Homo sapiens: one gene and its partners. The protein of the gene in region 5 interacts with the protein of the main gene of each other region in a biochemical or structural test. Each region holds a gene or a part of one and is shown on either strand. Other genes may lie near its edges.

The links.
Region 1: the proteins of HSPD1 (region 5) and ERG form a complex in vitro, tested with the Homo sapiens proteins (one large-scale study listed by BioGRID).
Region 2: the proteins of HSPD1 (region 5) and CLU form a complex in vitro, tested with the Homo sapiens proteins (one study listed by BioGRID).
Region 3: the proteins of HSPD1 (region 5) and CA2 are reported together in a solved structure, tested with the Homo sapiens proteins (one study listed by BioGRID).
Region 4: the proteins of HSPD1 (region 5) and PLG form a complex in vitro, tested with the Homo sapiens proteins (one study listed by BioGRID).
Region 6: the proteins of HSPD1 (region 5) and SUPT6H form a complex in vitro, tested with the Homo sapiens proteins (one large-scale study listed by BioGRID).
Region 7: the proteins of HSPD1 (region 5) and DHFR form a complex in vitro, tested with the Homo sapiens proteins (one study listed by BioGRID).

What each region holds. Positions count from the first base shown.
Region 1 is NC_000021.9:38,397,478-38,400,977, forward strand, and holds part of ERG (transcriptional regulator ERG), read right to left. Parts: intron 3,169-3,500; coding exon 3,097-3,168; coding exon of another isoform or gene 2,885-3,096; exon of another isoform or gene 2,595-2,884; intron 1-2,594. UniProt on the Homo sapiens protein: Transcriptional regulator. May participate in transcriptional regulation through the recruitment of SETDB1 histone methyltransferase and subsequent modification of local chromatin structure.
Region 2 is NC_000008.11:27,601,201-27,604,700, forward strand, and holds part of CLU (clusterin isoform 1 preproprotein), read right to left. Parts: intron 3,196-3,500; coding exon 3,091-3,195; intron 1-3,090.
Region 3 is NC_000008.11:85,474,007-85,477,506, reverse strand, and holds part of CA2 (carbonic anhydrase 2), read right to left. Parts: intron 3,184-3,500; coding exon 3,091-3,183; intron 1,710-3,090; coding exon 1,647-1,709; intron 388-1,646; coding exon 232-387; intron 1-231. UniProt on the Homo sapiens protein: Catalyzes the reversible hydration of carbon dioxide. Can also hydrate cyanamide to urea. Stimulates the chloride-bicarbonate exchange activity of SLC26A6. Essential for bone resorption and osteoclast differentiation.
Region 4 is NC_000006.12:160,712,244-160,715,743, reverse strand, and holds part of PLG (plasminogen isoform 1 precursor), read right to left. Parts: intron 2,759-3,500; coding exon 2,619-2,758; intron 951-2,618; coding exon 830-950; intron 1-829. UniProt on the Homo sapiens protein: Plasmin dissolves the fibrin of blood clots and acts as a proteolytic factor in a variety of other processes including embryonic development, tissue remodeling, tumor invasion, and inflammation. In ovulation, weakens the walls of the Graafian follicle.
Region 5 is NC_000002.12:197,493,341-197,496,840, forward strand, and holds part of HSPD1 (60 kDa heat shock protein, mitochondrial), read right to left. Parts: intron 2,037-3,500; coding exon 1,954-2,036; intron 1,413-1,953; coding exon 1,317-1,412; intron 911-1,316; coding exon 817-910; intron 153-816; coding exon 1-152. UniProt on the Homo sapiens protein: Chaperonin implicated in mitochondrial protein import and macromolecular assembly. Together with Hsp10, facilitates the correct folding of imported proteins.
Region 6 is NC_000017.11:28,689,705-28,693,204, forward strand, and holds part of SUPT6H (transcription elongation factor SPT6), read left to right. Parts: intron 1-377; coding exon 378-525; intron 526-1,216; coding exon 1,217-1,359; intron 1,360-3,500.
Region 7 is NC_000005.10:80,644,984-80,648,483, forward strand, and holds part of DHFR (dihydrofolate reductase), read right to left. Parts: intron 1-3,500.

The DNA of each region.
Region 1 (3,500 bases), on a different chromosome or scaffold from region 5:
GCCCCAGCTACTCGGGAGGCTGAGGCAGAAGAATCACTTGAACTCGGGAGGCAGAGGTTGTGGTGAGCCGAGATTGCACCACTGCACTTCAGCCTGGCAACAGAGTGAGACTCCATCTCAAAAAAAAAAAAAAAAAAAAAAGAAGAGAAAAGAAGATAAAAGAAAAGAAAAGGTAGGTTGGGGCAGTAACCCAGGGATGGGTGACTCACAGTGGGAAGGGAAGGAGGGAAGGGTGGTGAGGAAGTGCTGGGAAGGTGGATGCAGCAGGACAACACACATGTGTAGGAGTCTCTGCAGAAAGGGTGCGGAATGCTGTCTAATTTAACCAGTAAACCCTGAACACCACTGTCTCCTCTATCAGGGACTCTATAATGAAACGGCCACCATGCAGAGAAGAGACAGATTCTGGTCTAAGTAGAGTTGTTACCTAGGAGCCTGGCTTGCTTCATGGTCAGCACAATAACGCTGACCAGAGTTCGGTTCCCTCGGATGTGGGATTAGACAAAGGGTATGGAAATGAAGATCATGGCACAGCAAACCAAGAGTGGAGGAGACAGGGATTTGGGTCTGTATCCCCAAGGACCTTCAAAGAAACAGTCAACAATCACCTTTCTGAAAGTAGTCAGGTACCCACTGACCACAGGGATATCGTCAGATTCCCAGTGACCTCCCTCTGGAGCTCGTTCAGCTCTGAAAGTTAGTGATGCAAAAGCTCTTCCCCCTCAGCCATCACGACGTTCATTCTCCAGTTGCAGGTTCACAGCTTTTATCTCCACAGGAGCAGTCCTTTAAGGTTGATCGCTTAGCAATGGATGACCCGAGGTGTATAACTAGTTCTTATCTCCAAGTTCAAGTCCCTGAATAGGGCCTACAGTAAATAGTCCTCTGGCTTGTTCAGTCTGCTTTAAATTCTTTACAGGTCAGATACCAATATTTGTATTGGTTCTCATAATCACAGTAGCAGTGGTCAAAACAGGTTATTTCAGGTACAAACTGAGTCGCGAAAACATACTTGACTAGTAGTGGAGCTGTGGAAGTGTGCTCTCTCCCAGGTCACGCTCAAATTATGGGCCCATGGAAGACCACCATCAGAGCGGCATGGGAGGTGTCTGAGTTTGCCACCCTTGCCTTCCCTGGGTTGGGCAGAGAGGGAGTCCCAACCAACATCCTCACAGTCACCCTCTTCTCCATCCACCTGGATGGGCCATACCTTCCAAATCCACCATATCCTAAAATGTGAAAACAAAGCAGCTCCAGGACCCACTGTCTTAACCAGGTAGCATCAGTCAGCTGGCTTGTCTGACAGAGAGATTGTGCCAATGAATTTGGCCAGTGTTGTGATCTTTTAACACAGTTTATAATACTAGCTCACAACCCCTGGCTTTGCAACTCAGTCAGAGGCACCTATGAGATGTCTTAACATAAACAAACAAATACAAAATTAAAAAGTAAAAAAATTTTTAAAACCCTAGCCAAATGTTTTGGAAATAGTTTTTATTTTTTTAGTTTATATGGAAATATTTTTTAAATGCTCACAGAATTACAAAATCTCTAAAGCTTGAGTCAAACATGAATTTCTATTTTCCACTCGCAATACACGTGGTGGATGTCTTTAGGACCAATCTTGCAGACTCTAGGCACTGGGTCTTGCCCATGTTTCAATGGCCTGTGAAATCTTTTACATGACAGAGATGACTTACTACCTCTTAGTACCCCTTAGCTGCTAAGCCTTTCCATCATGCTTCCCAGGAGCAAGACAGTAAACTTTTTCTCTGACGTTAGAGAAGAGAAAATTGCCAGCCTGAAGTCACTAGGCAGTAACCAGGGCAGTGTCAGTATTTGAACAGCCTGAGAAGCTTCCTCATTCATTCTCTTTAGCTCCCTGGGCCCCCAGTCTTTCTCATTAGAAAGAAAGAGTAGTTGCCAAGCCTAGATCTTGAACCAGTTCGAACTGAGACTTGTGTATTCCGGATATGTGATAGAGTTTAACATGAATTCTGGAAGCATGTATGAATATGGAGAAACCATCCCACCACCCTGAACACAATGTCATCAGCTGTGAGGCTGGTACAATGATACCTAGCTTATCGGGCTGATGTAAGTCCCAGGGAGAGGACAAATGCTAAAGGCAAGCTATACCCTTCTGGGAAATGCCCTCTCTCCCTGCTCATTATTCGTCTGGCAAACATCTAATTCCCCTTTGCCATGTGGCCATTCCTCTGGAAAGCATCTTTATGCCTTTCATGGGGGATTGAGTTCCTCCCCACCCCTGCTCCTACGCCCTGTATTGCTAGAAGTGGTTCCTCTACCATAAAATCTATCACATTAGGGAAAACATTTATGTGTACATATGTGTCTCTCTGGCTCTAGGTCACTCTACTGAAACATCTAGAACTGGAGGCAAAACATTTCGGTTTGTTCACCATCATACCATCCGTGGCTGGCACAGAGGAGGCACTCAGCAAATGAACAAACCAAGCTGAATGAAGAAGTAAACTTTCTGAAGACAGGAAGCTTACTGAAGCCTGGTTCATCTATATATTCCCAGAGTCTAACACCACGCTTGGCACTAATGGGCACTTGATAGATGTTTATTTTTGCATGAATGGCATGTAAATTTATTACCTAATTAAATCATTTGGAGGACAGGCAGTAAGATTCAGATGTAAATACTACTGGTTGCATGCTTCTGCTCTGCAAGACTGGCTTCTTGTGACATACTGATAATCGGTCACTGTGAATCTGGGGAGTGTCCTTGTTTTGTGCTCTTCCCCCGAGGAGGGACAGATCCTTCTGTTAGTTCAAAAGTCGGCCTATTCCTAACTGCCAGGCATCCAGGATGCCTTCTTTGCCCATCTGTCTTTCTGAAAAGCTAGTTAAAGGGCTAATCTGCTCTTAATTCCTTTAGTGTGGTCTTTGAATGAAATGGTTTGAGTGGATTTAGTCTCCAAATCAACAGAGGCAGAATAAGACTGTCTGGGACTGGCTTCAGCTCCGGGATCAGCTCTCTTTGTATCACGTGACTTAGGGCACGGATCTCAGCAGGACATCTGGGATGTCTCTCAATGAAGAGATCACACAGGGGTGTTTTCGTACCTGGCCTAGTTGTAATTCTTTGCGTAGCTTCAGGATATACTGAAGTATTTGGGAAAATAAAAGCTGCACCCCCTGCAGACAAAAGGAAAGACAAACATGTGAAGGTCTTTTGTTGTGGTTGTCGATCTCAACATCAGCGCCAAATCTACTTTTCCCTATGACAACAAAGGGAAGAGACCTCCTCAAACCTGCCTTAACAGAGCTCCGGAGAAACAGACAGGTGCACCTGTCAGATTCTCAAGATGGAAGTGAAACTTGGAGCCTTGGTGTACTCCTGTGCCCCGTTTGCTATAAAGCGTTTTGTGTTTTGATTTTATAACTTCTTGATGAAGCCCTATCTGTGTCCCCCTCAATCCCACTTCCCACTGGGCAATCTCGTTTTATTAAAAAATTATATGGTACAT
Region 2 (3,500 bases), on a different chromosome or scaffold from region 5:
ACCACCCCCGGGTGATTTTTTTGTATTTTTAGGAGAGACAGGGTTTCACCATGTTGGCTAGGCTGGTCTCAAACTCCTGACCTCAGGGGTCCACCCACCTCGGCCTCTCAAGGTGCTGGGATTACAGGTGTGAGCCAATGCACCCGGTCCAAACTTGTCTTTTGAGCATGTCTGTAGAGGTGGCAGTTCTGGTGCCAGGAGTTCATGCAGCTGATGCACTGGCACCTGGTGGCCAGGGGTCCTTGCCTGCCCACCTGCCCGCCCATGGCTGGTCAGTGAGTTCATCAAGAGAGCAGGGAAAAGAGAATTCATTCCTCTTGGCCCTGGGCTGCAGGTTGTCAGATTCATTAAGACCTGGAAACTGTCCACTAGCTCTTAAAACTACTGTTTTTCTCCCCCTAAGGTATTTCAAAAATATCCAGAGGCAGGTACATCAAACGTGAGTCAGGGGAAGGGAGATTTTGCATATGCTTTAGGATGATGACTGCAATCATTTATAGTAAACAAAATGTTAGGTGGGGAAAGAAACAGAATTACTAACAAGATGCCAGTTTGAAAATAAATATGTAATAAATAAACTTCATTATTTTACCAAAAAAAAATTTAAAAATAAGAAAAACTAGCTCACACCTGTAATCCCAGCACTTTGGGAGGCTGAGGCAGGCTGATCACTTGAGGTCAAGAGTTTGAGACCAGCCTGGCCAATATGGTGAAACCCTGTCTCTACTAAAAATATAAAAATTAGCCAGGCGTGGCGGTGCACGCCTGTAATCCCAGCTACTCAGGAGGCTGGGGCAGGAGAATCGCTTGAACCCAGGAAGCAGAGGTTGCAGTGAGCAAAGATTGCGCCACTACGCTCCAGCCTGGGTGATAGAGCGAGACCCTGTCTTAAAAAAATAATAATAAAATAAGAAAAATCCTTGAGAGCTGAGGCTTAGTCTAGAATAGAGGTTCTCTACTGGGGTGACGCTGTCACCCAGGGAGATTTAGCAAGTTCTGAAGCTGGTTGTCACAACAAAGGGAAGGGAGCTGCTGACCTCTAGTGGGCAGAGGCCAGGAATGCTGCCAAACACCCTGAACTGCTCAGGACAGCCCCCAACGACAAAGAATGACCTGGTCCAAAATGTCAGCACTGCTCACACCTGTAATCCCAGCACTCTGGGAGGCTGAGGTAGGAGGATCACTTGAGCCCAGGAGTTAGAGACCAGCTTGGGCAATGTAGCAAGACCCCATCTCTACTAAAAATAAAAAAATTAGCCAAGCATGGTGGAGCACACCTGTAGTCTGTTACTCAGGAGGCTGAGGCAGGAGGATGACTTCAGCCCAAGAGGTCTAGGCTGCAGTGAGCTGTAATGGTGCCACTGCACTCCAGGCTGGGTGATAGAGAGAGACCCTGTCTCAAAAAAAAAAAAAAAAATCAACAGCGCTGAAATTGAGAAATCCTCATCTAGAGTTCCCAGGCAGTACGTGCTTATATGGTTGCAAGCACCTTAAATAACAGTAGGCAGTCCTCTTCAGTGTAGACTATTTAGCTCAGCTTAGAGAATTATTCTTACCAATAATTCTCTAAGAATCTATCTCAGGTCAGGCACAGTGGCTCACACCTGTAATCCCAGAACTTTGGGAGGCCGAGGCGGGCAGATTACTTGAGGTCAGGAGTTCAAGACCAGCCTGGCCAACATAGTGAAATGCTGTCTCTACTAAAAATACAAAAATTAGCTGGGTGTGGTGGTGCACACCTGCACTCCCAGCTACTTGGGAGGCTGAGGCAGGAGAATCACTTGAACCCAGGAGGCGGAGGTCGCAGTGAGCCGAGATAGAGCCACTGTACGCCAGCTATAATCAATGACTGATAAGACTGGCGCTGGCTGCACTCTCAACTGTAATCAATGACTGTTAAGATTGGCGCCAGACCTGAGCCCAGCCTGGGCAACAGAGTAAAAATCAGCATAAGAGGTCCAATCTGGGCACAGGCATCTGGACATCTTTTCTCAGACCCTAACATGACTTTCTTGTGGTGAGGTACCATGTAATTGATGCCACTCTATGATATTTTTTATAGAAAAAGCCCCAAGGCCTGGTTGTGCACTCATCTACAGCAACTTATACTTCAGCCTGTTAAAGCACAACTGTTTATTTTGCAGTGGCTTCTAAAATTATAGGAGTGAGGCTAGGAATGTTTAACTAGACCCTGGCGGCCTGCCATGGCAAACTCAAACTAAGCATTAAGTAAGAGCAAAGCCACCAGATCGATAAGCTGTTGACAAGGGGAAACAATTAACTCTTTGTGAGTATGAACTGCTGTGTACCAGGAACTAGTCCAAATACTGTCACAGCTGTTATCTCTAAGTGGAAAGAAGTTAACCCATAACCAGAGCTGGTGAAACGGAGGGGGACAGTTAAAGGGAAATATTCCCTTTGCCTAGGGGACCAACCAACCGACCAAAGGGACTATTGCTTGGATGCCCAGGTACTGAGACCCGTGACTTCTGTGGCCAGAGGCTGCGAGGGGCCCCAGGAGAGAACACAGCGCCCTAGGATTGAAGCCCAGCTCGCCCATGTCGGGGTCAATCTTGGATAAGTTATTAACCTTTCTGTGGCTCAGTTTCCTCAGAGGGTCATTCTGAGGAAATGAGGAAATGTATGTCGAGTGTTTAGAACAGTGCCTGGCCTCTGGTCAGTTTTGTTAAACAAAACACATACTGTCTGCAATGTCATAATCTGCAGAGGAAAATGAAGATGCCTACTGCGCTTGGCGCTTGGGAACAGAATCACCGGGGAGTCCCAGGGGGATGACTTTTTTCAACAAGCTTTTTTCAACATGGGGCCGACCAGGTGGAGGGCACTTTTGCATCTCTAACGACATCTCACCGACTTCAGGGACAGCCTCGCATCATCATCTCATTCTAAGATGAGGAACCGAAGCTGCATGAGGCTCAGGACCTGCCCCGGGACACAGCTCAAAGGCTGCAGAGCTGGAATCCAAACGCTTATCTGTCTGACTCCATAAAGGCAGCACCAGTGAGGCCCCAGTGACCCCAGGACACAAGGGATCAGGGGGGACGGCTTGTGGTCTGGACCCCGACTCACCCACAGACAAGATCTCCCGGCACTTGTCACACTGGTCCTTCATCCGCAGGCAGCCCGTGGAGTTGTGGCGGATCTCCCGGCACACAGTCCGGTCATCGTCGCCTTCTGGGGACACACGAGGGAAGAAGAGTCAGTCATCCAGCCATGCAGAGATGGACTCCACTGATTCCTATTGTTATTTTTATTTATTTTTTAATTTACAGACAGGGTCTCACTCTGTTGCCCAGGCTGGAATGCAATGGTGCAATCATAGCTCACTGCAGCCTCCAACTTCCAGGCTCAGGTGACTCTCTTGCCTCAGCCTCCCGAGTAGCTGAGACTACAGGTGTGCACCACCACACCCGGCTAATTTTTTAAGTTTTTATTTTTGTAGAGACAGGGTCTCACTATCTTGGCCAGGCTGGTCTCAA
Region 3 (3,500 bases), on a different chromosome or scaffold from region 5:
CTTACAATGACTATTCAATTTTAGAGACTAAACGAACTAAGTTTATAGTTAATAACAACAAAGATTTACTGAACGCTGTTTATTTGCTAGGCACCATCAAAGGCACTATTTCCATAGCAAGAAGTAGCAGGAGAAGGATTAAATCTCAGTTCTCTCTCACTCTGGAGGCCAAGGTCTTCTGCCTTGACTAAATGCTCCACCCGTAAACAGACCTGTCATTACAAAACAAACCTGCTCGCTGCTGACGCTGATGGGTTCCTTGAGCACAATCCAGGTCACACATTCCAGAAGAGGAGGGGTGGTCAGTGAGCCTGGGTAGGTCCAGTAATCCAAGGATTCAGGAAGGAGGCCACGAGGATCGAAGTTAGTGAAGTCAGCACTCTTGCCCTAGAACAAGGCAAATACGCAGCTTCAAACTATCACATTGACAGAGTAGGAGGAAGGTAGGAGAGCAGCAGACACAAATAGGTATACTCCCCTCTGATGGTCAAAAACACTTTTTAAAAAAGAGGTTCTATATTCACTGGCAAACAAAATAAAGAGAAATTAACAGAAGACATTCAACTTGAAAATATGTGGCAAGTCGTAGTAAAAAAAAAAAAAAACTATTTTCACATGTCCATTTTTCATCTTGGCCTTTTATCTAAAATGATCCCTTACATTCCCCATTAAGTCATTAGCTGATCACACCCAGTATTTAAAGTGAGACTGCTGCCACTAAAATGAGGTGACTTCAAGTTGCAATAACAGAAATATGGTATCCTGATGAGGAGGTGATTTTCTTGCTCTAGGTCAGAATCAAATAACTACATTCTGTTTTGGACACTACACTTTTCAAGCAAACAGGAATGATTTACTGGAAGAATGACAAGGTGGTGGCAAAGAGAGAAAACTATATCATATGAGAATAGTTAAAGGAAACTAAAGATAATTAGTTTGGGGTAGGTGAAAAAACAAAGTAGAGACAGAGTAGAGTTATTTGGAAGAGAGATCAGGTTTATTCTATGAATTCAAGGGGCTCAAGCCAGTGAGTGAGCATTTCAGAGGATAGATGCTGCTTCAATGTGAAGATCAGCTTTATAAAGCCAGGGCTGCCCCTGGTGATAAGTTCCCCATCACCGGAAGTGACTGTAGTGTTTAAACAGATGCTCAACGACCTCAACACAACTATGCTGCAGAGAGGATTTAAATGCAGGATGGATGAATGCAAAGAGGTCATAGAATAGAAATCTCCATGAAACAGGGCCTTGTTTATCTTGTTCACCATTGTGTCTACTAGTTTGCAAAGCGACTGGCACATAGTACATACTTAACAAATATCTGCTGTATGAATGAGTGAATAATTTGACTAGAGGACCTTTGAACCTCCTTGCAGGCATAAGATTCTCTGACTCTTACATATGGATGTCCAAATGATGGGGGAGCAAGATTAAATAAATACAAGTCTTAGAATTATGCTAGCATTAGGATCAACTTTGTTGAAAGAAACGTTAATTAAATATTTAAGTAATATTCTACCTTTACTAACTGCTCATCCAAACACCACATGTCATTGAGACTGTGCAATTTGATCAAAAGAAATTTCTAAAACCAATGGAGTATTGAAAATTGGTACCCTAAGGAGGTGGCAGAAAATTCAAATTTACCTTTGTTTTAATGGAATCCAGCACATCAACAACTTTCTGAAGGCCCGGTTTAGCGCTGCCAACCTAAAGAAAAACATAAAGGGCAAGATACTATCACCCAGTTGGTACTGTACCAGTTTTTATTTTTATTTGGGTAGCTCTATTAGAAAACATCCAAATAGTGAGCCCAAATTCTCCACTTCATACATGACCCCCATCAGTACTGGCTTGATGACACTGACACCATAGACTTGCCTACTTTCACTGAATCTTCAACTCGCCTCTAATTCCACTCAGAGAGTAGTCCTGAAACCACCAGCTCAATTGTCCCCAGTGACCTCTAACTGCCAAAGGATACTCCTCAAGGGCTTGCCTTGATTTCCTTGTAGGACTTTACACTATGGTCTTCCCTTCTTTTTAAAAATTATTTTCTTCTTTGGCTTTCCCTACGCCTTCCAGCAACCCAAATCTCTCTTGACTCTCGCTTTTTTTTTTTTTTTTTTTTTTTTTAGAGTCAGAGTCTTGCTCTGTCATCCAGCTTGTAGTGCAGTGGCATGATCATAGCTCACTGCAACCTCAACCCCTAGGCTGCAGTGATTTTCCTGCCCTGGCTTCCCAAGTAGCTGAAACTACAGGTGTATACCACCATGCCCAGCTAATTTTGTGTTTTTGTTTTTGTTTTGTTTTTTTGTTTGTTAGTTTGTTTTTTATGCCCAGCTAATTTTTAAAAAAATTTTGTAGAGATGGAATTGTGCTATGTTGCCCAGGCTGGTCTTGAGCTCCTGGCCTCAAACTATCCTCCTGCCTTGGTGTCCCAAGGTGCTGGGATTACAGGCTTAAGCCACCACACCTGGCCCCTTTTAAGTTGTTTAATTTGCATCTCTCCCCTTGTAAAGGCCTTACATTTTGCAGTTTCTCAGGATTGCTCCCTGGGCAGATTTCTCATCTCCCTCTTCGTGCTGTACTTGGATGATTTCATACACACCTGTAGCTTCCACCTCAACATATGAATCAGAGCTCATAAATCTCCAGCCCAGACCTTTCTCCATTCCCCTTTACCACTGTTTAGAGGGCAGCTCAACCGGTTCTGTCCCACTGTTGCCTGAAATTCACTGTCCTTCCCCTCTTCAGAACCTGATCTTACTTTATCATAATATAGTACTGTCTAGCCTCAGGTTAAATGAAAAGAAAACAAACAAACACCTAGCAGTCACCCAAGTTGATCTCTTTATGTTCTTCACATTTACATCCAAAAGGTACCAAATAAGTACCTCTCCTATTGTCTTTCTGCCCTCCATCTCCACTGCAACTAGCAGATATGAAAGGAGGAGATAAACTTGAAAACATTTCAGGGACAAAGGCATTTCCTAAGCTCTTTTGTAGAATGTCCTGTATGTTACAAATACTCTGTCTGGTCATTCTTTATTAAAAATAGGGAAAAAAAAGAATTGGGTCATCAACTAACCTTCAAAAAAATACCTAGAACGGCCAGTCCATCAGGTTGCTGCACAGCTTTCCCAAAATCCCCATATTTGGTGTTCCAGTGAACCAAGTGAAGCTAAGGCCGAAGAGACAAAGCCACAGTGAGTGATTTACATAATCAAAGCTGACAGATTTTATTCAATGGTCTTTTTCTCACAATAAAGGTTACTCAGGAAATTGAAAATATGGATAATTTTAAATCAAAATTTTCCTTTCATTTTAATTCTAATCATCCACACAGTACTTGGTATAACAGCAAGTGTTTTCATCAATAACTCTAAGACAAATAAATGTACAGTTTTGACAGAAGGCACACATTTTATTTCTAAATTTCTGTTAAAACAGGATCCTCCAGTTTGAGTCCGTTTACTTTTTGCAAATGGTGGAGTTGGA
Region 4 (3,500 bases), on a different chromosome or scaffold from region 5:
AGCTATTTGGAATGGGAGGTGTACAAATTCAATAGAGCTGCTTTCCACCGTGGAATCTGTGGCTCAGCCTCACTTCTGCATTCTTGAAAGCCCTGGTATGGCCCTGTAGTCATCATAGAATGAAGAGGAAGACCAGAAGCGACTGTGGAATGGGAGGTGTTTTCCAGCACAATTAATGTGAAATAGAATACTCACGAAACCTTATTCTAGGAACCATCATGACTTTCTAGAGCAAGAAGCTTATTCTTATTTTAAATTCGTGGTCCCCTTAGAGAATCTGATGGAAGTTACGAATCCTCATTCCAGAAAAACACATTGATGTAAATATACATAAAACATCAGGGATTCAAAAATCCATGACGTCTGCTCATAGGTCAAAGGTTAGGAGACTTGAATCTCATTGGTACAAAGGGAAAAGAAAGACAAGGAGTAAAGAGAAAAGGAAAATATTTGGAAAATACACCAGCAACATGTGTGTGTGCATTTCTGAAGACAGATGTTAATGTATTCATTACTGACATTAGTGTTTGAATGTGTGTGCACATCAGCTGAGGATCTGGTTATTATTCAAATCAGATTCAGAGGGTGTGACATTCTGGATTTCTAACAAACTCTCAGAAAACATCCCTGCTGCTGACCCGTGGACCATATTTTGAGCAGCAAGAATGCGTATTTCACTTGCAATATTGTGGGAGGAGGTTAGCTTTGAAATTAAAAACATCAGGCGTTCACTTCTTGAGGAATGCTAAAATATCTAAATGACAGCAAATGTCTGATAGAGCTGCAGAGCCTTAATTAAACATGGAATGTTTTTCCCAGTGAGACTTACTTGGAAGGAATGTATCCATGAGCGTGTGGGCTCTGAGAGTCCCAGGCCTGGCATTCCAGTCCAGACATGGTCTTGGAAATTTTGCCGTCATAGTTTTCTCCACTGCAATGCATACATTCCTCTGGACAGAGTGGGAAGGAAGGACAGAGAGGAAGAAGAAAACTGAAATGGATGAAGCAAAATAGAGAGTAAAAACCAGAATCCTACTCACTTAAGTGCGACTTGCCTCTCATTCCGATGTAATTCACAACAGGCACTTGGCAATAAAATTGGCAATAAGGACTCAGGATTTTCTAGCATAATCCAAATGTCATTTTCCTTTTAAACCGTAACATTCACATATTTTAGTCAATACTCCCTCAACTATTGTAGTCATGACCAAGTTCAGAATTTCCATGATGCCATGTCCTTAGACCGGGATGCACAGGCCAGTGGGGAGCCAAGGGTGCATATATTCCCAGGAGTCTACGTTCTCCATTAGGAGTTTTCAATATTTGGCATCTTCATTTCAATAATGATCTTTAAAACTTTGTATGAAATTATTCTGATCATTCCGCTGACTGCTGAATGACCTGGCACCGTCTCAGGGTTTTAGTCTGGAGTTTTTGTTTATGCTCATGGCCTCAGGGAGAACAATATTCACCTGAAGTGACAGCGCTTCTCTTTTTATGTTGTTGAGAAGCATGATTGGCTCTTTTTTGCAAAATTATTCACAAACTTAAACTTTGATTCAGAATTATTGAAGTAACATGGTGAGGCAGAGTAATATGTGACTTAAATTTTATGGAGTACTAAGGAAAACGGGCAGACTTAATATAACAGTGATGCATTGGTGGTGCTTAAGGGCAAATACCTATAACATGGTGTACAAATAAAGGATCCCCGTGATTCGAACAGGTGGAAGTGATGGGAGAACTGAGTTGTCACACAGTACCATATCCACACTGTCACACAAATCTCACCTTTATTTATTCCCTTTTGCACTAATGTAGCCAGAAATGTGAAACGATGACAGTTTTTTCAGTAGGATTTTTTTAAAATTTTTTAGCATTGACCTTTGAGGTGCACTATTAAATTGCTCAGTCCATTCAAATAATGGATTGCTGATTTAAAAACTGGTTCCTTGCTTAGCTTCAGCAAAACAGCAAAGTCTACCACATTAAATATATATTGTTTATTTGATTTTTATTGATTTTGTTGTTTTATTTTAACTATTTAATTGCAAACCTGTCTTGGGGTTAACACTGTGTAAGAGTTGTAAGCATAAGAAGTTTGTACTTAGAGTTTAGATGTAGTTTTATATTTGTACATGTTGATGTAACATTTTAATAAAAATAATTCAGGTCTGCTGGGCATGGTGGCTCATGCCTGTAATCCCAGCACTTTGAGAGGCTGAGGCAGGCGGATCACCTGAGGTCGAGAGTTCAAGACCAGCCTGACCTACGTGGAGAAACCCTGTCTCTACTAAAAATATAAAATTAGCCAGGCATGGTGGCACATGCCTGTAATCCCAGCTACTTGGGAGGCTGAGGTAGCAGAATCTCTTGAACCCGGAGGCGGAGGTTGTGGTGAGCCGAGATTGCACGGTTGCACTCTAGCCTGGGCAACGAGAGCAAAACTCTGTCTCAGAAAAAAAAAAAATTCAGGTTAATTCTGGGGTTTTGCTTCTTTCCGAGAGGTGAATACGTTACTCAATTATTAATAACATCCCTGTGGGAAGGGGCTTTACAACAAATTATTTTACAGGTGAAGGGCAGAAATGAAAACATTTTCTAGAACCACTCCTGACCTTCACACTCAAGAATGTCGCAGTAGTCATATCTCTTTTCTGGATCAGTAGTATAGCACCAGGGCCCCTGCGGATCGTTGTCTGGATTCCTGCAGTAGTTCTCCTCCAGTCCCTCTGAGGGGTGTGTAGCAGGTGAGAATCTGGGGAGGATGGAAAAGAAGCACTTAGACTATATTCTAAAAATCAGCTTGCTATTAGCAAGGCAGAAGGAGATGCTCTCGATTCCCATCTGAGATTGTCATCCAAATGCATTTCAGCTGGGTGCTGCAGCATTTGTGTGGTCAGATTTTCAATTTCTCTATTGATAGGCTGCTTCTGGCACAGTAGCTAATATTACCATTGCTACTGTGACAGCCAAGTCTTAGAGAGCCAAAATATTTTTATTGCACAGTCAGGAGAAATATAAAGGCCTCAAAAGGCTGCCATGGTCTTAATTCATTCCAAACACCTGCTTTTGTCAGTTACCGTTTTCTCTGTAAAAATTTTTGTAGTTAATACCATTTTGTCCATGTGAACTATCTGCCAGGAATTCCACTAACATCTTTCCACACATTCTCTCTTTTAGTCCTAATAAAACCATTTGAGGAAGGTGTTATTATCCCTATTTTACAGATGAGAAAACTGAGTGGCAACGTAAAACAAAACAAAACAAAACTTGCCTAAGTGTAAATAGCTATGAAGAAGCAGATCAAGAATTCAAAGTTGATCTGTCTGATTCCAAAGTCCTGGTTTTCTCTGAAATGCAGCTTGAATTATTGGGGATGGAGGAGGGATTTAAGCTTATTTTCAGTTCTAGAGATGAGTTGCTGTATAGAGACAACCATTTAGATGAAAATCACAAGACTTACAGTCTAGAAAGGCAGGTTTTATTTCTGGTTCTTC
Region 5 (3,500 bases):
ACTTAGAGCTTCTCCATCAACATCTTCAGCGATTATGACCAAAGGCTTACGGTGAGCATTGGCAATTTCAAGAGCAGGTACAATGGACTGGATACTAGAAATTTTCTTTTCACTCAACAGAACATAGGCATCCTGGAATTCACATTTCTGACCTGTAAAAATAATGAAGATTTCAAAAATATACAAAAAATGACTGCAATACATTTAAATGAAAAGCGAAACCAAGGTTCCAATACACTTTAAAATTCACCAGTGAGTTGGTTTTCCTCCTTCATTTCTCATATGCATTAACTTTTGGAATATATACATTTATTTTTTAGAGGATGACACCAACTAATACCTATAGTTTGACACATATTAGAAAGTATATTTTAAAAACTTCAGGAGGCCAAAGCAGGCAGATGACTTGAGGCCAGGAATTCAAAACCAGCCTGGCCAACATGGCTAAACCTTGTCTCTATTAAAAAATTCAAAAATTGGCCAGGCACAGAGCCTCATACCTATAATCCCAGCACTTTGGGAGGCCAAGGTGGGTGGATCACCTGAGGTCAGGAGTTAAGAGACCAGCCTGGCCAACATGGTGAAACCCCATCTCTACTAAAAATACAAAAATCAGCCTGGCATGGTGGCGTGTGACTGTAATCCCAGCTACTTGGGAGACTGAGGCAAGAGAATCACTTGAACCCGGAAGGCGGAGGTTGCAGTGAGCAACGCGCCACCACATCATGCCACTGCACTCCAGCCGGGGCAACAGAGAATGAGACTCTGTCTAAAATAATAAAAATAATAATAATTCAGTTATTGATTTGTTCTTACCTTTTGATGTATTAATAAAGTATGGAGAAATATAGCCTCGATCAAACTTCATGCCTTCAATAATTTCTAATTCATCATTCAGTGTTTTTCCATCCTATGAAAAGTCAAAGAATTAGGTATATGGATTTCATTGAACACAAAACATGGAATTACAGGCCAGATTAATAAAAACAGACCCCTCTGGCCATAAGAGATGCAGGGTAGAGTATGAAACAGCCCAGGACATCCAATTACACTTCTGCAAAAAATCCCAAAAGTGCTTATTTGAATAATCATTTAAGTTAGGATGGATTCATTTCATGCAGCAAAGGCTAATTCACATAAAACACAGTAAGTACTTTATTCTATACATGTGCTGAGACTACATATGAAGGAATAAAAAAAGCAGTTTTTAAAACAGAATTTTTCTGTTTGAAAAATTCAGTTTTGATCATCAGATAACTCAAACTTTTGATCATAAGATAACTCAAAATTATCTTTAAAAATACAAACACACTTGCCTTTACTGTGATGACACCCTTTCTTCCAACTTTTTTCATTGCATCAGAGATGATATTGCCAATTTCTTTGTCTCCGTTTGCAGAAATCGTAGCAACCTGAAATAATCCAGTTACTCTTCGAAATTAAAAGGTAAGCCTAGTGTCCTCAGTCAGTTCCCTTACCTTTTCCTAGTAACTTCCAAATTGATACTTCCATCCAGGGGAGAGAAGGGGAATTTACGTTATGGTAGTTTTCATGAAGTACTGGTTCTTTGCTCTTTTCCGATTCATTATTTGACTACATTGTTTTGAAGAATATGATACATAAAACTATTCTTGTAACAAAAAGTTTAAAAATGCTGACTTCATTACAAACTGACAAAACTTATGCACCTTTGACAATGGCTAAGAACATTTTCACAATCATATGAATCCATTTTACAGCCATGTAGAACTAAAATGACAACCACATGTAGAACTAAATGACAACCATTATGGTCATAATTCTTTTCAAAGGTTTTAGCAGTAAGAAACAATGATTCTAATATTGATGATTGGGTAGTATTGTTATTCTGACATTGGTGTGATCAAGGGAAAAAAAAAATCACACATGCCATTAAATTTTTTTTAAAAAACGTGTAACATGTTAAGTCCTTACCTGTGCAATTTCTTCAGGGGTGGTCACAGGTTTAGACTGCTTTTTAAGTTCAGCAATTACAGCATCAACAGCTAACATCACACCTAGTTCAACGATATATGTCATTACAATGTTTATTTCTCTCATGGCTTCTATGTCAAGTAGAAATCTTGAGATTTGTGACAAATATTTTAATGCCTTAACTTAAAAAAAAAAATTTTTTTTTTTTTTGAGACAGGGTCTTGTTCTGCTGCCCAGGCTAGAGTGCAGTAGCACAGATCATGGCTCACTGCAGCCCTGACATCCTGGGCTCAAGGGAGTAGCTGAGACCACAGGCTCAAGCCACCATGCTCAGCTTCTTTTATTTTTGTAGACAAGGTCTCACTATGTTGCCCAAGGTGGTCTTGAACTCCTGGGCTCAAGCAATCCTCCCACCTCAGCTTCCCATGTAGCTGGGACTACAGGCATGTACCTATGCTTGGTCTTTAGTGCCTTAATATTAAATTTACACACAGCTTCTGAGACAGTGCTTCTTAATAACACAGAGTTGCGTGGCATGTACTTAAACAGTAACTTTAGGTTCACACAGTAAATAAAATCTCACAATGCCAAAATTTTGAAAATAGGACTAAAACAAGGTAGATGTGTGTAGTTTCAAAAGTCTCACCACTGAACTCATCCTATGCAAATTCCTAACCCAATCATGCTGTTTCCAATAGGGTCCACGACACTTCTCATGTCCATTAGATGATGCAAAAAAGGACCAAAATGGCTAACACTCCCTTATTTTCAACAAGAAGTACAGTTCTTAAATGATAGGAATCTGTTGTGACTATGCCTCTGCAGGTGTCAATTATCTGAAATCCCCTCAATTTAGTACGTATTATGAACTAACAAAATATTTTTGTTTTACATCAGTCTTAATAGTCCCATTTTGCTCAATTGGGAATAGTGCTAGCTCTCTTGTTTGAGAACTGTTACTTCAAAAAAAATCCAATGCAAGGTGCTGGTAAGTCCTCTTCATAACCTTAATTAATACTTGTTAGTGATTTACAGTAAAACTGCTTTTAGTGAAGTATATTCACTTGGCCCATAAACACTGAAATAGATGAGGTAATGATACATTAGTAATGTAGTAATAAATTAGTATGCCAATTCTGACAAAAAATTACCAATAGCTCCCCCCACCTTCACTTACAAGAGGGTTCCTGGTTTGAACCCTAACATACCCTAGATATACATAGCAATTCTGCTGATAGGAAAACCAAGTCTTAGCACACAGCTAATAAATGACAAACATGGGACTAGAATTTAAGTCTATACTGCCATGAACCTCATGAGGAGGAGCAAATTGTTAATTAAGTTGCACTCTAGTTACAAGCACTAACAAAACACAAACCAATAACATGGTGTGTGCTATTAAGAAAAAATAAACTGAGGAAAACATTACTTTCTGACATTCTGAATGATCCAGTGTATTTAGTCTTACTTTCTACAAAACTAAACTAAAAATTAGCCAGGAATGGTGGTGAGTGCCTGTAGTAGTCCCAGCTACTTGGAGGCTGAGG
Region 6 (3,500 bases), on a different chromosome or scaffold from region 5:
GGGCTCCTCAAGGAAGTTTTTGGTCTGCTTGTTAAGGAGCCAGGGAAGTCTCAGAGATTGCCACCATAATTACAAGGGGCAGGAGGGAGTTGGGAGGATGTCAGTACTACAGTTTCCGTCTAGGCCCCCTTTCCTCCTTTCTAACAGCACAGCTTTGCATTTATCTGTGGACTCATTGGGGTTCCATAAAGCATTTTGATTACAGTGTTTCATGGCTAAGTTTGAAAACCACCTTTAGTAAATGTTGATGGAAAGAAAAGAAGAAGCCCTGACAGAAACTTACTCCCATCTGGAGAGGCCCGCCCCTTCCACGGGACTCCTTGAGGCTCAGGTTGGGGGGCAGCTGCAAGGCTCTTCTTGATGGGCTTCTTCCCCAGGGCTATGGTGACAAACACATCACACTCTATGACATCCGGGCAGAGCTGAGCTGTCGATATAAGGACCTCCGGACAGCCTACCGCTCTCCCAACACAGAGGAGATCTTCAATATGTTAACCAAAGAAACACCAGAGACCTTCTACATTGGTAAATTCTGGGGTCATTTTTTTATTGGGGGCAGGAGGTGTGTTTACTGTGTACATTCAAACCAAGCAGCAGTTCCAACAGATTGAGGCAGGTTTGTGTTGTACATGGGGAAGGCCAGGAGAGCATTTTAAAAGACTAAAGAGTCCTGGACTGGAAATCAAAACTGAATTTAAGGTCAAATGTGCTTCCAGTGTGCTATGGAATCTTCATGCAGTTAGTCTTCTTATAGGCTTTATTTTCCCCTATCATCAAATCAGGGGAACGGCCAGGCACAGTGGCTCATGCCTGTAATCCCAGCACTTTGGGAGGCCAGGGCAGGCAGACTGCTTGAGGCCAGGAGTTCGAGACCAGTCTGGGCAACATGGTGAAACCCCATCTCCACTAAAAATAAAAAATTAGCTGAGCGTGGTGGTGGGCACCTGTAATCCCAGCTACTCGGGAGGCTGAGGCAGGAGGATTCCTTGAACCTGGGAGGCAGAGGTTACAGTCAGCCAAGATAGCACCACTGCACTGCAGCCTGGGCAACAGAGCAAGACTTCATCTCAAAAATAAATAAATAAATAAAAATCGGGAAGAGTTCCCTCTTCAAGGATGGGAAGGAAGTCAGATATTCTGTCACTGAAAGGCTGGTGGAAAGAAGTGCTCTCCACATTCTCTGAGCCTGCTCCCCATCCTCTTTTCCTTCTTGCAGGAAAGCTCATCATCTGCAATGTCACTGGCATTGCCCACAGGCGTCCCCAGGGTGAGAGCTATGACCAGGCGATCCGCAATGATGAGACAGGGCTGTGGCAGTGCCCCTTCTGTCAGCAGGACAATTTCCCTGAACTAAGCGAGGTGTGTGCTGCAGCATTATCCTGCTCAGTGGATTTCCTTGGTTGAATGATCTCGGTGCCTAGAAGGGAATCAGAAATGAGGGTGTTCTAGATCATTCTCTCACCAAACAAGTACACAAAGAAGGAAGACGGACGGGAAACACACAGGTTTAGCATGAAGTCCCTTCTGAGAAGGCTGACATAGCTGGGCACGGTGGCTCACGCCTATAATCCTAGCACTTTGGGGGCCAAGGTGGGCGGTTCATCTGAGATCAGGGGTTCGAGACCAGCCTGGCCAAGATGGTGAACCCCCGTCTCTACTAAAAATACAAAAATTAGCCAGTTGTGGTGGCATACGCCTGTAATCCTAGCTACTCGAGAGGCTGAGGCAGGAGAATGACTTGAACCGAGGAGGCGGAGTTTGCAGTGAGCCGAGATCATACCACTGCACTGCAGCCTGGGTGACAGAATGAGACTTCATCTCAGAAAAGGAAAAAAAAAGGCTGACTTAGAAACTTCTTATGGTCGGCCGGGCGCAGTAGCTCACGCCTGTAATCCCAGCACTTTGGGAGGCCGAGGCGGGCGGATCATGAGGTCAGGAGATCGAGACCATCCTGGCTAACACGGTGAAACCCCGTCTCTACTAAAAATACAAAAAATTAGCCAGGCACGGTGGCGGCCACCTGTAGTCCCAGCCACTCAGGAGGCTGAGACAGGAGAATGGCGTGAACCCAGGAGATGGAGCTTGCAGTGAGCCAAGATAGCAGCATTGCACTCCAGCCTGGGCGAAAGAGCGAGACTCCGTCTCAAAAAAAAAAAAAAAGAAACTTCTTATGGTCGCTGGGTCAAAACAAAATGGCAGACAGGCATGGTGGCACGTACGTATAGTGCCAGCTACATCAGAGGCTAATTTGGGAGGATTTCTTGAGCCCAGGAGTTCGAGGCCAGCCTGGGCAACATAGCAAGACCCCATCTCCTTTTTTAAAAAAAGGGAGGGGCTGGCCGGGCGCGGTGGCTCACTCCTGTAATCCCAGCACTTTGGGAGGCTGAGGCGGGCGGATCATGAGGTCAGGAGATCGAGACCATCCTGGCTAACACGGTGAAACCCTGTCTCTACTAAACAATACAAAAAATTAGCCAGGCATGGTGGTGGGCGCCTGTAGTCCCAGCTACTCGGGAGGCTGAGGCAGGAGAATGGTGTGAACCCGGGAGGCGGAGCCTGCAGTGAGCCGAGATTGCACCACTGTACTCCAGCCTGGGCGACAGCGAGACTCTGTCTCAAAAAAAAAAAAAAAGTGGGGAGGGGCCAGGCCGGGCACAGTGGCTCATGCCTGTAATCCCAGTACTTTGGGAGGCTGAGGCAGTTGGATCACCTGAGGTCAGGAGTTCCAGACCAGCCTGACCAACATGATGAAACCCCATCTCTACTAAAAATATAAGGATTAGCAGGGTGTGGTGGTGAGACTCCTATCTCAAAAAAAAACACAAAAGGGAGGGGCCTCAGTTGCAGCTAAAGGGATCTAAGTTGGATAAACATAAAAGAGGATGGGGCACAGTCACACCAGTAATCCCAGCACTTTCAGGGGCCGAGGCAGGTGGAGTGCTTGCCCAGGAGTTCAAGACCAACCTGAGCAACATGGCAAAACCCTATCTCTACAAAATAAAATTAGCCAGGCTTAACCGGGTGCAGTGGCTCACGCCTATAATCCCAGCACTTTGGGAGGCCAAGGTAGGTGGATCACGAGGTCAGGAGATCGAGGCCATCCTGGCTAACACAGTGAAACCCCATCTCTACTAAAAATACAAAAAATTAGCTGGGCATGGTGGCGGGCGCTTGTAGTCCCAGCTACTCGGGAGGCAGAGGCAGGAGAATGGCGTGAACCCGGGAGGCAGAGCTTGCAGTGAGCCAAGATTGTGCCACTGCACTCCAGCCTGGGCAACAGAGCAAGACTCTGTCTCAAAAAAAAAAAAAAAAAAGATTACCCAGACTTGGGGGCGTGCGCTTATAGTCCCAGCTACTCGAGAGGCCAAGGTGGAAGGATCACTCGAGCCTGGGAGGTTGAGGCTGCAGTGAACCCTGATTGCACCACTACACTTCAGCCTAGGCAAAAGAGTGATACTGTCATAAGAAAAAGATGGCTAGGTGTGGTGGCTCACGCCTGT
Region 7 (3,500 bases), on a different chromosome or scaffold from region 5:
TTGTCATACCCAACTAAATCAGAGTTGAGGGGCCAGGGGAAAAAAGCACTCAGGGTATAAAACATTGCTCCAAGAATGTAATTCTCTGTAAGCCTGACTGCTGGAACTGCTTGTTGTAACCTGAAACCAGTTTTATCTATAGCTTCTGAGATAACTTGCTGCAACTCTAGAACTGATTTTGCCCACCACTCACTGCTCGCCAGTCGGAGCTTGCTAGCTCCCCCAAACCTTAGTAGTGCCAATGAACTTTCTCAAAGAGCAGTAACATTTCTCCTTTTAAATAAAACCTCTAACCTTCCCTTTGTTCTTCAGACATATGGAAGGTCACTTGTCTGCATGTATGCCCTAAACTGCAATTTTTTCTTCCCAAACACAATGTTAAATTTAGAGAATTCATCGCAAAATTTTTATTTTGCCTTTGATAATACTAAAAGGTTGGGACAGCAGAGCAAGGTGAAGATAGAAAAAAAGGAATCCAGAATCAAGTCAGGGGAGATGAGAGAGTTGATTTAGGTGGCAGTGGATTTTTGTCTCAAGATGGAGGGAAACAAGAACAAAGTAATATGTTAAGGTGAAAATGAGATCATGAGTCTGTTCACTGTGATTTCATTAATATTAATATTAATGTGTATGTTCTATAAGATATAAAGTAGCAAGTTTATGGGGGTGGGGGTAGGAACTGATATCTATACCCTTCTGTGTGCCAGAAACTTTACATACAAAATTTCAGTGAGTCTTCAAAATCACCCAAAAAAGTTGTCATTATTCATCTCATTTAATAGGTAAGGAAAGAGGTTCAACAAGGCTTACTTGTAACCTGCCTAAAGTCACAAAGTTATTAGGTGCCATAGTAGACATCAGAAACCAGGTCAGTGTTTGCTACTCCAAGTGTGTGAGTGGTAGGGGGAGAGAGAACTGCACCTTCAAGAAGTTTTAATCACTGTGGAGATTCTGATAGTGAGATCGTAAAAAATTATAACATGAAATTAAGTTAACTTTCGTGGATGGGAGACTATTTAAATCTTACATAATGGAGGCAATTTTGGATTTTCTAAAGATGGTGTCCAGGCTACTATAGCATTACAGTAAAACTTGTTTATTTAATTTTTGGTTCCAACGAGGTTTTTTTTTTTTTTTTGAGACGGAGTCTTGCTCTGTTGCCCAGGCTGGAGTGCAGTGGTATAGTCTTGGCTCACTGCAACTTCTGCCTCCTGGTTCAAGAGCTTCTCCTGCCTCAGCTTCCCGAGTAGCTGGGATTACAGGTGCTTGCCACCACGCCTGGCTAATTTTTGTATTTTCAGTAGAGACGGGGTTTTGCTATGTTGGCCAGGCTGGTCTCGAACACCTGACCTCGTGATCTGCCCACCTCGGCCTCCCAAAGTGCTGGGATTACAGATGTGAGCCACTGTGCCCGGCTGGTTCCAAAGACTTTTAAAAGCCACTTTATTGATATAAATCACACACCATAACATTTACCCTTTTAAAGTGTATAGTTCAGTGACGTTTAGTAGATTCAGAGTCGAGCAAGCATCACTCCTATCTACTTTTAGAACAGTTCCATCACACCAAAAAAGAAAACATTCTGTACTCATCAGTGGCCATTCCCACCCTTCTCACCTCAAGTTCTTTTAAAGCCACAACTTGACTGTCTAGACAACTTTGGAAAAGCATTTTCCCTCAATACCTTACTTAAGAAATATTTACCCTAAATTACTATAGTGTTTGGTAGAAAATTTTGTGATCACTTTGAGGATTCAGTTTCTTCTTACATTGGGGGAGAGGGGTGAAAAATGAAGTATCTTTAGAGTTGGCATAAGCAAGTGATTTCCATGTATAAATCTCTGCCCTCTTATTCAGGACCCTGCAGTGCCTGGCACTCAGCAGCTGTTCACTATATGTGTGGGACTGACCAACAAGTAAGGAAGTGGAAGGAAGAACAACAACAAAAAAGAGCTCTAACATTTTTTACTAACTGGTATCACTATTTCCCTGGCATGCTTGATAACAAAGACTTTAAATTTTCTCAGCCTTAAAAAAAAAAGCACAAGACACCAACATATGTTATATATAAATACAGAAGAAGCAACCAAACCCAATTACATGCATCACAGGAAGGTCGTAAAAAAAAATTACACTCATCATATTCGAGGAGAAATGCTGGCTCAAGTGAACATCTCCCCCACTGAGATTTCTTTCTGTTTGAGCTTAAGCTAGCCATAAACAAACTTGAGTAGTATTCAAAAATATCATTAAAGAGTTTCTTGGAATGGCGATATAGTCTGTGAATTTGAAATCTACCAAGGAAAGAGATAATCAGAGCATCCTAGCAACCAGAAGAAAGAACAGCATGAAGATGGAAGCAGGCAGCAAGATGCACATCAACAAATCTGCCCCGTCGCCCAGAGGCAATCAATGCAAATATTCTATACACTTTCTTCTCGGTTTTTACCTATGCCATTCTAGGAAGAACTTGGGAGAAAATCTATGTAAGCCTGAATCCCCTTAGCCTATATAGCTGTGTAGTTCTTTCCTTCCCATAGTGTTAAACTTGACTAGGATATAGTCCTTGGTTATTCAGATACTGTATCTAGGTGTTGCTTTGAAGGCATTTTGTAGATGTGATTACAATTCAGTTTTTTTTTTAAATTTTTTTGAGACAGGATCTCACTCTGTTGCCTAGGCTGGAGCGCAGTGGTACTATCTTGGCTCACTGCAACCTCTGCCTCCTGGAAACTACAGGTACATGCCACCACGCCTGGCTAATTTGTTTGTAGAGACGGGGTTTCATTATGTTGCACGGTTGGTCTCAAACTCCTGAGCTCAAGTGATCCACCTGCCTTGGCCTTCCAAAGTGCTGGGATTGCAGGGGTTAGCCACTGTGCCCGGTCAGACTTTAATCTGAGTGGGCTGAATCAATCAGTTTAAAGGCTTTAAGAGTAGAGTTGAGGCTTTCCTGAAGAAATTTCACCTGTACCACTTCAGCCCCTGCTGGAGAATTCCAGCTTGTCCTTTCTGATGGCCCGTTTTACAGATTTTTGGACTCACGTACCCAGCCCCCATAATTGTGTAAGCCAATTCCTCGCAATAAAACTCTTTAATATACCTGTATCTATCTACTACTGGTTCTGCTTCTTTGGTTGAATCTTCACCAATACACATGGGAAAAGAATACTATGACTACTGTTCCCAAGAAAGTAGTGCCCTAGGATACTGCATTCTTTTTGGTGATTATATTATTAGACTAAGAATGATTAACATGCCAGATCCCAGACCTTCCCCTTAGATCCTGATATGGTTTGGCTGTGTCTCCGCCAAAATCTCACCTTGAATTGTAATAATCCCCACATGTCAAGGGTGATACCAGGTGGAGATAAATGAATTATGGGGGGTGGTACCCCCCATGATGTTCTCGTGATAGTTAAGTTCTCATGAGATCTGATGGTTTTATAAGGGGCCTTTCCCCCTTTGCTCGGCACTTCTCCTTCCTGCCACCATGTGAA